Regions from separate parts of the Homo sapiens genome. Here region 2 is linked to region 1. Evidence: fine-mapped expression QTL. A gene starts in region 1. The other region holds a variant in brackets. All regions are shown on one strand. Distances are between the middles of the regions. Region 1 holds the start of ASB9 (ankyrin repeat and SOCS box containing 9). Region 2 has its middle 6.1 kb from the start of PIGA.

The links. PIP is the estimated chance that this variant, and not a neighbour inherited with it, causes the effect. A credible set is the group of variants that fine-mapping cannot tell apart.
Region 2: its variant is the best candidate, but not a certain one, in a credible set for the expression of ASB9 in lung (TOPMed, PIP 0.57).

The regions. Positions count from the first base shown.
Region 1 is chrX:15,267,606-15,272,987 of GRCh38, reverse strand. It overlaps ASB9 (ankyrin repeat and SOCS box containing 9), which reads left to right and starts at 2,905. Exons shown (of 7, transcript NM_001031739.3): 1 at 2,905-3,207. The coding sequence starts at 3,114.
Region 2 is chrX:15,338,931-15,344,312 of GRCh38, reverse strand. No RefSeq gene overlaps it. Among named protein-coding and RNA genes, the nearest start is that of PIGA, 6.1 kb to the right of the region's middle. The variant TG/G (reference allele first, on the strand shown) is at 2,298.

The DNA of each region.
Region 1 (5,382 bases):
ATGACTGTGGCCTTATCATCTGCTGCAGGCAACGATCATTCTGTTTTCTAACCTAACCTGTGCCAATTTCACTGAACATCCAGACACACACACTGACACACACCAAGGCTGACTAGAAGTTGGTAAGATTGCTTTTCTCTTATGGCTGTTGGTAAGCCAACCAATTTCTCCATAATCAAAGCTCATACACATGTGATTCAACTTTATCCTCATACAAATCCACAAATGCATGAACTCCCCTTGTAAAGAACTGTTGTTAAACAGTTTAAAAATTCATCTCCAATCCTCCTATTCACTGGTGTTGATCAACATCATAAATAAAATGAGAAGATTAAAGGCTGATGAATTAATTCCCTCCCAGGTACTAGGGAAACAACCTGGAAATCTTCTTTATTGTCATTTTGGAACTTAATTTTGAATATGGAAAAGGCTTATCTACTTGGAATTTAATTAAAAGTAAATAAAGAAGCTGTAGTACAAAGATTTTACTGGGAAGGAAAGGAAATAGTATCCAGTTTCCCCATTGTGCCCTTCTGTTCAACTCCTCATCCAGTCTGTGTTGGGAATCAATTCCTCACTCTCTGCCAAACAAATGTATCATTCTTCAGATCTTTCCTGATGGAGTGGTAAAGAATTTGTATGCTTATGGCCTTCTCAGTTAATTCTGCAAATAGAGATAGAGGGAAGTTTAGTAGTGTTTATCCAAATTTTAAATGAGCAGCCTCTTTTCAAAAAGTGCAATTTGTATTGAGATCATTACAGATTCACATGCAGTTGTAAGAAATCACATAGAGATCTCCAGTGCACTTTGCCCAGTTTCCCTCAATGGTGACTTTTTGCAAAACTATAGTACAATATTGTAACTGGGAAATCAACATTCATACAATCTACTGATCTTATTCAATTCCCCGGTTTTACTTGTACTCATTCCTGTGTGTGTCTTCAGTTTTATACAATTTATTACATGTGCATAAGTATGCCTTTGACTTAGCATTTCCACTCTTAGGAATCTCTCCTCTAGAAATATTTGCCTATGTGCACAAAGCCACATGTACAAAAATATGAACTTTAGTCCTTTCATAGTACTAACAGAAATAATGACATTCTGCTTGCATCATTAGGAGCATAATTAAATACTTCTGGCACAATATGGAATGCTATGCAACAGTGAATAAAGACAGGAGCATACCTATAAAAGCTGATATGGAAAGCTCTCACAGACAAAATAAGTGTAAAAAGCATAGAATAATAGAATAATATAGGGGCCGGGTGCGGTGGCTCACGCCTGTAATCCTAGCACTTTGGGAGGCCAAGGAAGGGGGATCACGTGAGATCAGGAGTTTGAGGCCAGCCTGGCCAACATGGTGAAACCCTGTTTCTACTAAAAATACTAAAATTAGCTGGGCACAGTGGTGCGCTCCTGTAATCCCAGGTACTCAGGAGGCTGAGGCAGGAGAATTGCTTGAGCTCAGGAGGTGAAAGTTGCAGTGAGCCGATATGACACCATGGCACTCGAGTCCAGGTGACAAAGTGAGACCCTGTCTCAAAAAAAAAAGAATAATATAGGTACATTTATGTGGAAAATGTAAATTGATAAATGTGCATACATGTGTATGCATATAAATGCCTTTAAAAACGTGAATTACACCCCTCAAACTGTTAATAACAGCCACCAAATGTTTTAACTGAGACTCCGTAAATCTAAAACATCTAGGCCTCATCTTTGGCATTAAGACAAATCTGCAATCACTTCACAGCCAGTCTATGCTTGAGACTTAACTCAGAGCCTTCCCCCATGGGGATGAAAAATCCTCTTCTACCTGGAAGAGAGGAATGGTGGGAGTCTAGAGGTGCCTGTCAGCCTGAAGTAGCACCCAGGGGTGTGAGGCAACTGGGTTTATCTGAAAAGACATGGACACAGTACATCCAAATTTTTTTTTTTTTGAGGTGGAGTCTCGCACTGTCGCCTGGGCTAGAGTGCAGTGGCATGATCTCGGCTCACTGCAACCTCTGCCTCCTGGGTTCAAGCGATTCTCCTGCCTCAGCATCCCGAGTAGCTGGGATTACAGGCGCCTGCCACCAGGCCCAGCTAATTTTTTTGTATTTTTAGTAGAGACGGGGTTTCACTATGTTAGTCAGGCTGGTCTCAAACTCCTGACCTCGTGATCCGCCCGCCTTGGCCTCCCAAAGTGCCGGGATTACAGGCATGAGCCACCGCGCCCGGCCCCTAATGTTTTGTATAAGCAAAAACAGCAAAACGTTAACAAAATAAATTTTAGTAATTCACAATGAAAAGATAGCAGGTCTCTTCCACATCTCAGGCCACCTAGCAATCCATTTTTCCAATTGCAACCGTTCATTATTTATTTAGAAGTTAAAATGAGTGGAGGAGGGGTGAGGTAGGACATTTAGTGAAATTCTTGCAGCTGAAAGGAACAAATGGTTCTTTCCAAAGGTACATTTTTTGTAACATATAGACACATTTCCCATAAGAAACTCCCAGCACAATTGAAAGCACATGTACAGATGGCCAGGGCGTGCTGTGCATGTTACTGTGCAAGCAATTCAGCAGGGCTGCTGCAAAACCAGCTTTCTCAGCTCTGGGTGCTCGGGCTTGTCTCCATAACAAGCTACCATGTAACAAACGGATCTCAGCAGGGTGAACAACAGTTGCAGAAAGTGAGCTGTTTCCTTCACCCCCACCCTGCTCCCTTCACTCTCAAAAGTTACAAACTGAGTTTCCTTCCTGATAAACTCCAAGGCTTCCTCACTGATTGGTCTCAGTTTGGGAAAGGACGTGACATCAGCAACTTCGCAGACTTAGGGCTGGAGGGTTCTTGTGGCCTCTGGCGGGCCTCCAGCCAGTTAGGTAAAACGTGTGTGTGTGTGTGTGTGTGTGTGTGTGTACACGAGCGCATGCCTCTCTCTGATCACAGGTAGCACTCAGATTACCCTGCCTGCTCTGTGCTTTGCTGCAGACCATTTGACCAGAACGTGTGCAGCTCAGCCAGCCACAGAACTGGAATTTTTCAGGAGCAGGGGGAGCATGGAGTTTGGACTTTGCTGAGCAACTGAAGTGGAGCGCAGAGCTTGCTCGCTTAGGAGAGAGCATCATGGATGGCAAACAAGGGGGCATGGATGGGAGCAAGCCCGCGGGGCCAAGGGACTTTCCTGGCATCAGGCTTCTTTCAAACCCATTGATGGGCGGTGAGTCATAGGGGCAGTGGAATCAGCCCTGGGGAGGTTGGCTAATGTGCTTAGGAGAGGAGGGTTGGGCAGTTTCAGTGGCTCTGTGTGAGGTGTCCATGGGGCTGTTACTGGGCAGATGTCCACAGCTCACTGGTATATATTCTTTACACAGCTGTTCAAAAATGTGTATACTTCTTTCTGCAGAATCCTACAGACAAGACAAATTCAATTGTCACAAATTATTCTCCAGTGAAAATTTCAGCTCCCAGGAATCATTCTTTGTGGGTCAAATGCATTATTTATTAAATTGGAGGTTTGAAAGTTACTTATAAATAGGAAAATTTTTAATGCTAAAACTTTTTAATTTGTAAGTCTTAGGTGTTTGGCATTTAGGTGGGGCAGGGTTTATAAAGATGTTCAAACATTGAGCACTGATTGAGTCACTTTCAAAAGAGACAAAAGAGACTTTGTTTTACTTAAAACATTGGAGAATCATCTTACAGGTATTGTTCTCATCTGTCAAGTGGTGTCTGTGCTAATGTACAGAATCCCACAAATACACACTTCGGTGAGCATTCAGCAGGTGCCTGTTGGCTGAAAGGATTCTGAAAAATGGGTTTAGGCATTTGCACACAGGTTCTTATAAATAATAGTATATTGGTTAGTAATATACTGGTTAACTCTCCAGCCCCAAGTCTGCAAACTTGCTGATGTCACGTCCTTTCCCAAACTGAGACCAATCAGTGAGGAAACCTTGGAGTTTATCGGGAAGGAAACTCAAAGTTCGTAACTTTCGGAGAGCAAAGGGAGCAGCAGGGTGAGGGTGAAGGCAACAGCTCACTTTCTGCAACTGTTGTTCACCCTGTTGAGATCCTTGGGGGCTTGTGACGGAGACAAGCCCCAGCACCCAGAGCTGGGAAAGCTGGTGTTGCAGCAGCCCTGCTGAATTGCTGTATTTATTATTTATTAATTTTTTTTTCTTTTTGAGACGGAGTCTTGCTCTGTGGCCCAGGCTGGAGTGCAGTGGCGCGATCTCGACTCACTGCAACCTCCGCCTCCCGGGTTCAGGCCTGTATATATAGGCGGGGCACGGTGGTTTACGCCTGTAATCCCAGTACTTTCGGAGGCCGAGGCGGGCAGATCACGATGTCAGGATACCATCCTGGCCAACATGATGAAATTCCGTCGCTACCTAAAATACAAAAATTAGCTGGGTGTGATGGCACGTGCCTGTAATCCCAGCTACTCGGGAGGCTGAGGCAGGAGAATCACTTGAACCCGGGAGGCGGAGGTTGCAGTGCACCTAGATCTCGCCACAGCACTCCAGCCTGGCGACAGAGTGAGACTCCGTATCAAAGAAAAAAGAAAAAAATATATACCTGGTATACTGTCCACAGCACCTGTTGATCAAAGGGGCAATAAACAGGGACCCTGAAGTCAGGGTGTTTTGTTTTGTTTTGTTTTTTTGAGACGGAGTCTCATTCTGTCGCCTGGGCTGGAGTGCAATGGCGAGATCTCCGCTCACTGCAACCTCTGCCTCCCGGGTTCAAGAGATTCTCCTGCCTCAGCCTCCCGAGTAGCTGGGATTATAAGCGCCCGCCACCACACCCGGCTAATTTTTGTATTTTTAGTAGAGACGGGGTTTCACCACGTTGGCCAGGCTGGTCTAGAACTCCTGACCTCAGGTGATCTGCCCGCCTGGGCCTCCCAAAGTGCTGGGATTACAGGTGTGAGCCACCACGCCCGGCCGTCAGTCAGGGTTTATTAATCTACTATACAGGTACCAAAAAGGTAAAAATGGAAGAAATAAAACACAAAACGTCTTCCCTTTGACTGAGTAGACTAGCCTGCTCATTCATTCATTCATTTATCCAATTTCACTTATAAAATGAGCAGAGTACTCAATGGTGAGTGGGATTTAGATCCACAAAGGCAGAACTGGATTAATCAGCAGATGTATTGAGCATGAGTTTGGAGAACTAGGAAAGCAAGAGTGGCATCAAAAATCACTTTTCACAAAGAATTTCTTTTTTTTTTTTTTTTTTTGTTTTTTTTGAAGTGGAGTTTCACTCTGTCACCCAGGCTGGAATGCAGTGGAGCAATCTCAGCTCACTGCAAACTCCACCTTCCCGTGTTCAAGCGACTTTCCTGCCTCAGCCTCCTGAGTAGCTGGGATTACAGGCGTCCGCCACC
Region 2 (5,382 bases), 71 kb before region 1:
GCCCTGGGGACATGAGCTAACCTTCACCTGGCCTTGGAACCACTCCCCACTGTGCTGCCATTGTCATTGCTCTTGTCATTTACTGGTGCCAACCCAGTCACTCCTCTTTTGCCACTGTTCTTTTTGCCCTCACTTTATGACCTTGATGTCAACAGGCTTCTTCCTTCTCATTTTACTGTATTTTTAATCAGGCTTCTGAAAATGCTTGCACATAACTTAGTTTTTTAAAACATACTTGGCATTCGACTCTTTGCTTTGCCTTTTCGTTCAGTTTCTACCACTCCCAACTTCTCCATGATATTTGCTTAAATTCCTTTGAGATCTGGGGCAGAAGACAATTCAAGGATACCACACAATTAAAGGAGTTACTTTGCTTATCCTCGACTGGTAAAAAGAGGGGATGTATCACTAAGGAGAAAAGACCTGAATTTAAGGACAGACTCTGCCACCTAAACACATTGTAAGCCTGAACAATGTCATCGAGCCTCAGTTTTCTCATCTGTCAAATGTAAATGATAATCTCATTTCCCTAAATCTCAGAATTGATAATTTCATTAGAGTTACGATTAGTGAAAAAAAAAAATTGAACAATACAATGTACCTTATAGCTCAAAGGAATTATTCTGAAGGAAAAAAGCAAGACTGAGCAAATCTCAGAAGCTTGGGACCTCTGAGATGTTCTTGGCTTATACTGGATCCTTGGATCTGTCCTAAAACCAACTCAAACCATGTTTTGGCTCGAAATGCCTCTGGCTTCATAATTGCCATTTAGATGGAGATTATCATAGGGAATTCTAAGCTAAGCCAAAACTCAATGTGATCTGGCTTTGTGCTTCTAAAACCCCTCCCTCTTCTTCCTCCTTAATTCCCAATTACCATCAAGATCTGCACTTGGATCCCTGACGCTGGGTCAGGATGGGTCTGGTCCTTGAGGGCGGAGGTGGGGTAACTGGCCTGTTGCTTTCTTAGAGTTCACTAGACATTGCACAGGAATATTTGTCATACTAACAGCCCTGGAACGTGAGTTGAAAATCCTCAACTTGTTGCAAAATAAAAGTATGTGAGAAACTCCAAGAGCTTTAAGCAAACACAATAAATGCCAGCAATGCATGATGTCCCTGATTACGCCACAGGGCCAGAGAATTATTAATGTGACAGCACACGTCATAAATCTATGACTAAAACAGTGTGGCAGGAGGCCCTTTAGAGATGGAAACAGATTAGGCAGCATGATGATCAGAGTTGAATGAAGATTAAAATACTGTCTGAGAGACTTGATAAAGGAAATTATACAAACATTACGTTTTAATGCCCTTAAGAAAAGCCATAGTTCAGTGAAAATTGTGAGCTTAATAGATTTGGTCAGCAAGAGCTGGACTTTGCCTAATTTAGTCTTAATCCTCAGTGTGAGAACAATGTCTTGCATATATTAGGTACTCAATAAATATTTAATAAATAATAAGTTATTACATTGATTTTGTGGCCAGCCAATGAAATTATCTCTTTAAAAAGTGAAGAGTAATTTTACATAGCTCATGTTTTTCAAACTCAGCTAAATTATATGCATGTCTGAATTATTCAGATGTTGCAACTCTAGAAAGGAATTTAATCTATTCTCAAAATATTTATGAAATGAAAAGGAGCAAAAAAATTCTGTTATTTGACCCTTATTAATGGCTTCATGAAAGAAAGTCTGCCTTTGGTAATTTTATCACTGATATTGTTCTGAAACAGTGGTCAGTAAGCTATGGCCCATAGGCCACTTTCAGCTCACTGCCTGTTGTTTTGGTAAATACTGCTTTATTGGAACACAGTTATGCTCATTTGTTGATGTATTGTCTATGGCTACTTTTATTCTACAACAGCAGAGTTGAGTAGTTGGGGACAGAGACTGTTTGGCTTGCAATGCCTAAAATATTTACTCTTTGGTCCATTACAGAAAAAGTTAGCCAACCGCTTGTGTAAAAATATTTCTTATTTTATCACGTCATCAATGAACATTAAATATAATGAATTAGACTGCTTCTTGAACCCCTATAAGAAATGGCACTTTTACCTGGCCTTGATCGATTGTTGGAATCAACTGGCCTCACCTTATTTGAGTCATTGTGTAGTGTGCAACCCAATGAAGCTAAAAAGTTACAGTGATTTAAATTTCAGGTTTCCACAATTCAAATAAAGTCATGGATACATTTATTGATGGGTTCTAGTTATGTTTGTGGTATAGCTCTAAAATGTTAGTGTTGATGGCGTGGACTCTAAATAGAGATAGTGCATAAACATATTAGTTTTTTTTT[TG/G]TTTGTTTGTTTTTTCTCTTTTTTCCAATGCCCTGGGTAAAGTAAATACTCCTAAAGAGTAAGGGGATTTTTTTTTTTTTTTTTGAGACAGAGTCTCACTCTGTCACCCAGGCTGGAGTGCAGTGGCACAATCTTGGCTCACTGCAACCTCTGCCTCCCAAGTTCAAGTGATTCTGCTGCCTCAGCCTCCTGAGTAGCTGAGATTACAGGCTACAGGCACCCGCCACCATGCCTAGCTAATTTTTGTATTTTTTAGTAGAAACGGAGTTTCACTATGTTAGCCAGGATGGTCTCGATCTCCTGACCTTGTGATCCACCCGCCTCGGCCTCCCAAAGTGCTGGGATTACAGGCGTGAGCCACCGCACCCGGACCAGGATTTTTTTTTTTTTTTTAAAGCATAAGCCCGCAAGGACAGGGTAAATGATAAAGTCAACAGAAACAACAATGTTCTGAAAGCTGAAAAGCACGTAGATAAGTTGTAAATGATGTGGCCGACCTGAAAAAAAAAATAATTTAAGCCAACAGTCTGGAAAGATGAGTTCCCAAAAGGCTCAGAAGTGGGTGTCCCAAGCACCTCTAGAAATGGGAGGGATGAGAGGGGTGCTAAAATGAGGTTCATTCCAAAAATCTGTATAAGAAACAGTTTGATCCCAAATCTTCTCCCACATTCCCTGTGGTGGAGTGACTGCTCCTTCCAACCCCAGGCAAAAGATGGGTTATTAGTCGTTTGGCTAAGGTAAAAGAGAGAGCATCCTGAATGGGGGATGCCTGACATCCATGAGGGCAGGGTGCTGAACTAACAAGAGGATTAAGTGAACGCGTACATACTAGGTGCAACCACAATTCAGGCAGTTGGATCTGTACTGGAAAAGTATTTCTCTAGGGGGAATCTTACCAGCCTAAGAGAAAAGACCTAAAAAGGACTGAAATTAGCTGGGGGAGGGACTATCAAATGGAACAGCCCAAAGAGGTCATCAAGCCCCATTCCTGGGCTCAGACCTCAGATCAGCTCCTTTGTCCCTTTCTTTTAAGTATGAGCAAGCAAGCATGAATTCCCAGACCTCCAGGGAAAATTTCTAACATGAAAGACAGAGAGTAAAACACACAGAAAAAGGCAATTTGGAGGAAACAGAAGAAAACTTCAAATCATTAATAGCCAGGGGATGAGGGAAGAAGGTGAGACAGTGCAACTAATAAATAAAATGAAGGTGTTATTAAAAAAGAAAATGTCAGAGGACATAATTGAGCCCTAGGAAACTAAAACTATTATAATAAATTGAAAATTCAATAGAACAAAAAAGGAAGACAGAGTTGAAGAAATTTCCTATGAAGTAGAATAAATAAGAAATTAAAAGTGAAAAGATAAGAAGGTCTAACATCAGAATAACTGAAGTTACAGGAAATGAGAAGAGACACAATAGGAGATGTAATCAACAATTTAAAAATTCAAGAGAATTTCGAAGCACATGAGTTGGCAAGTGAAAAGGCTCTCTGAGTCCCTAGTCCAAAAGGTGAAACTATGCCTATACCAAGGCACAAAATGATGAAATTTCAGGACACGGGAGACTAAGAGATAATGTATAAGTTTCCAGAGTAAAGAAAAATTATGATAACTTCAAACAAAGGGCCAGGAATCCGAATGAAATTAGTTTTCTCAATAGCAACACCAAAAGCTAGCAGGCTAGAGCAATGCTGCTAAACTTCTGAAGGAAAATAATTTCTGGCCTACTATTTGGCACCCAAACTATCAATAAAATTGGAGGGCTGAAAAATAAATTTTCAGACATTAAAGTTCTTAGAAAATCTCCCGATCTCCCATGCAGTCTTCTTTAGGAGGCTACTGGAGGACGGTCTTCAAAAAAGGGTGCTAAAACGAAAAGGAAGACATCACTCAAACAAATCCCAATATCCTGTGATTTTCCTTGTCTCTCTCTTTTTTTTTATTGCCACGAGAAAACATCAGGTCCTCATTGCCTCTAGTCTAGAGCTAGTTTCTTAAGCTATAATGTGCATACTATCATTCCAGATCTTGTTAAATTGCAGATTCAGATTTAGCAGGTCTGGAGAATCTGAGAGTCTGCACTTCTGACCAGCTCCCAGTTGCTGTTGCTGATCTGCAGCCCCTACTTTAAATTGCAAGGAGGCTTCTGGACTACTGGAACAGCCTAACTGGTCTCTTCTCCAGCTGTGCCACTCTTTCACCTTCCTTTTCTCCAGTTCTTGGAACAATTTTCCTAGGACAAAGCTTTGATTGTGGTTTGACATTTCATCTCATATTCTGCATCAAAAAGAAGTAACTGCCTTAGTTACTCTTTTCCACCACACTAACCTTTGTTTCAACAGTGTGTAGCCTAAAGCTTATCAATATGAGTTTTAAAAATGCTAGTAACATCTTCATGTTCAAGGTATCTAATTGATTCTTTTATATCCACTGGTGTTTGTTTAATTTCTGCATGTTTTTATTTCCAAATTCTTATTCTTTTAAAAATGTCATTTCAAAAATTATTTGAATTGCGTCTAGAGTGAATTCTTCTTCCATTGTTACATTTGTGTGTTGTCTTTCTTAATATTATATATCTTCCATTGTTTTTGAATTTTGGTTTATAAACCAATCTTGAGAGCTCTCTCTCTCTCGCTCTCACTCTCACTCTCTCCTCTCCCCGTGTGTGTGTGTGTGTATGTGTGTGTGTGTGTGTGTGTGTGTGTGTGTGTGCTTATATCCCCCAGACTAGCAGTGATAGTGGAAAATTGCAAATTATGTTGCTTGGCTCAGTTCTGTTAGCAAAGTTATATCCTCAGACTGTTGGCAAAAAATTCTTTCAATGTCTATTCACAAGTAGGGGAGATGGTTAAGCAATAAGGCTTGGTTATCTATTGCTATGTAACAAATCACCCAAAAACTTAATGTTTTGAGACAATAACGATTTATTATTTCTCATAATTCTGTGGGTTAGTTAGGATCAGCTAAGTGGTTCTTTCCACATAGTATAGGCTGAAGTCACTCCAGTGGTTATATTAAATTGGGAACTCACTTACTGCTGGAATGCCCAAGATGACCTCTCATTCTTCAGGGCTTCTCTCCA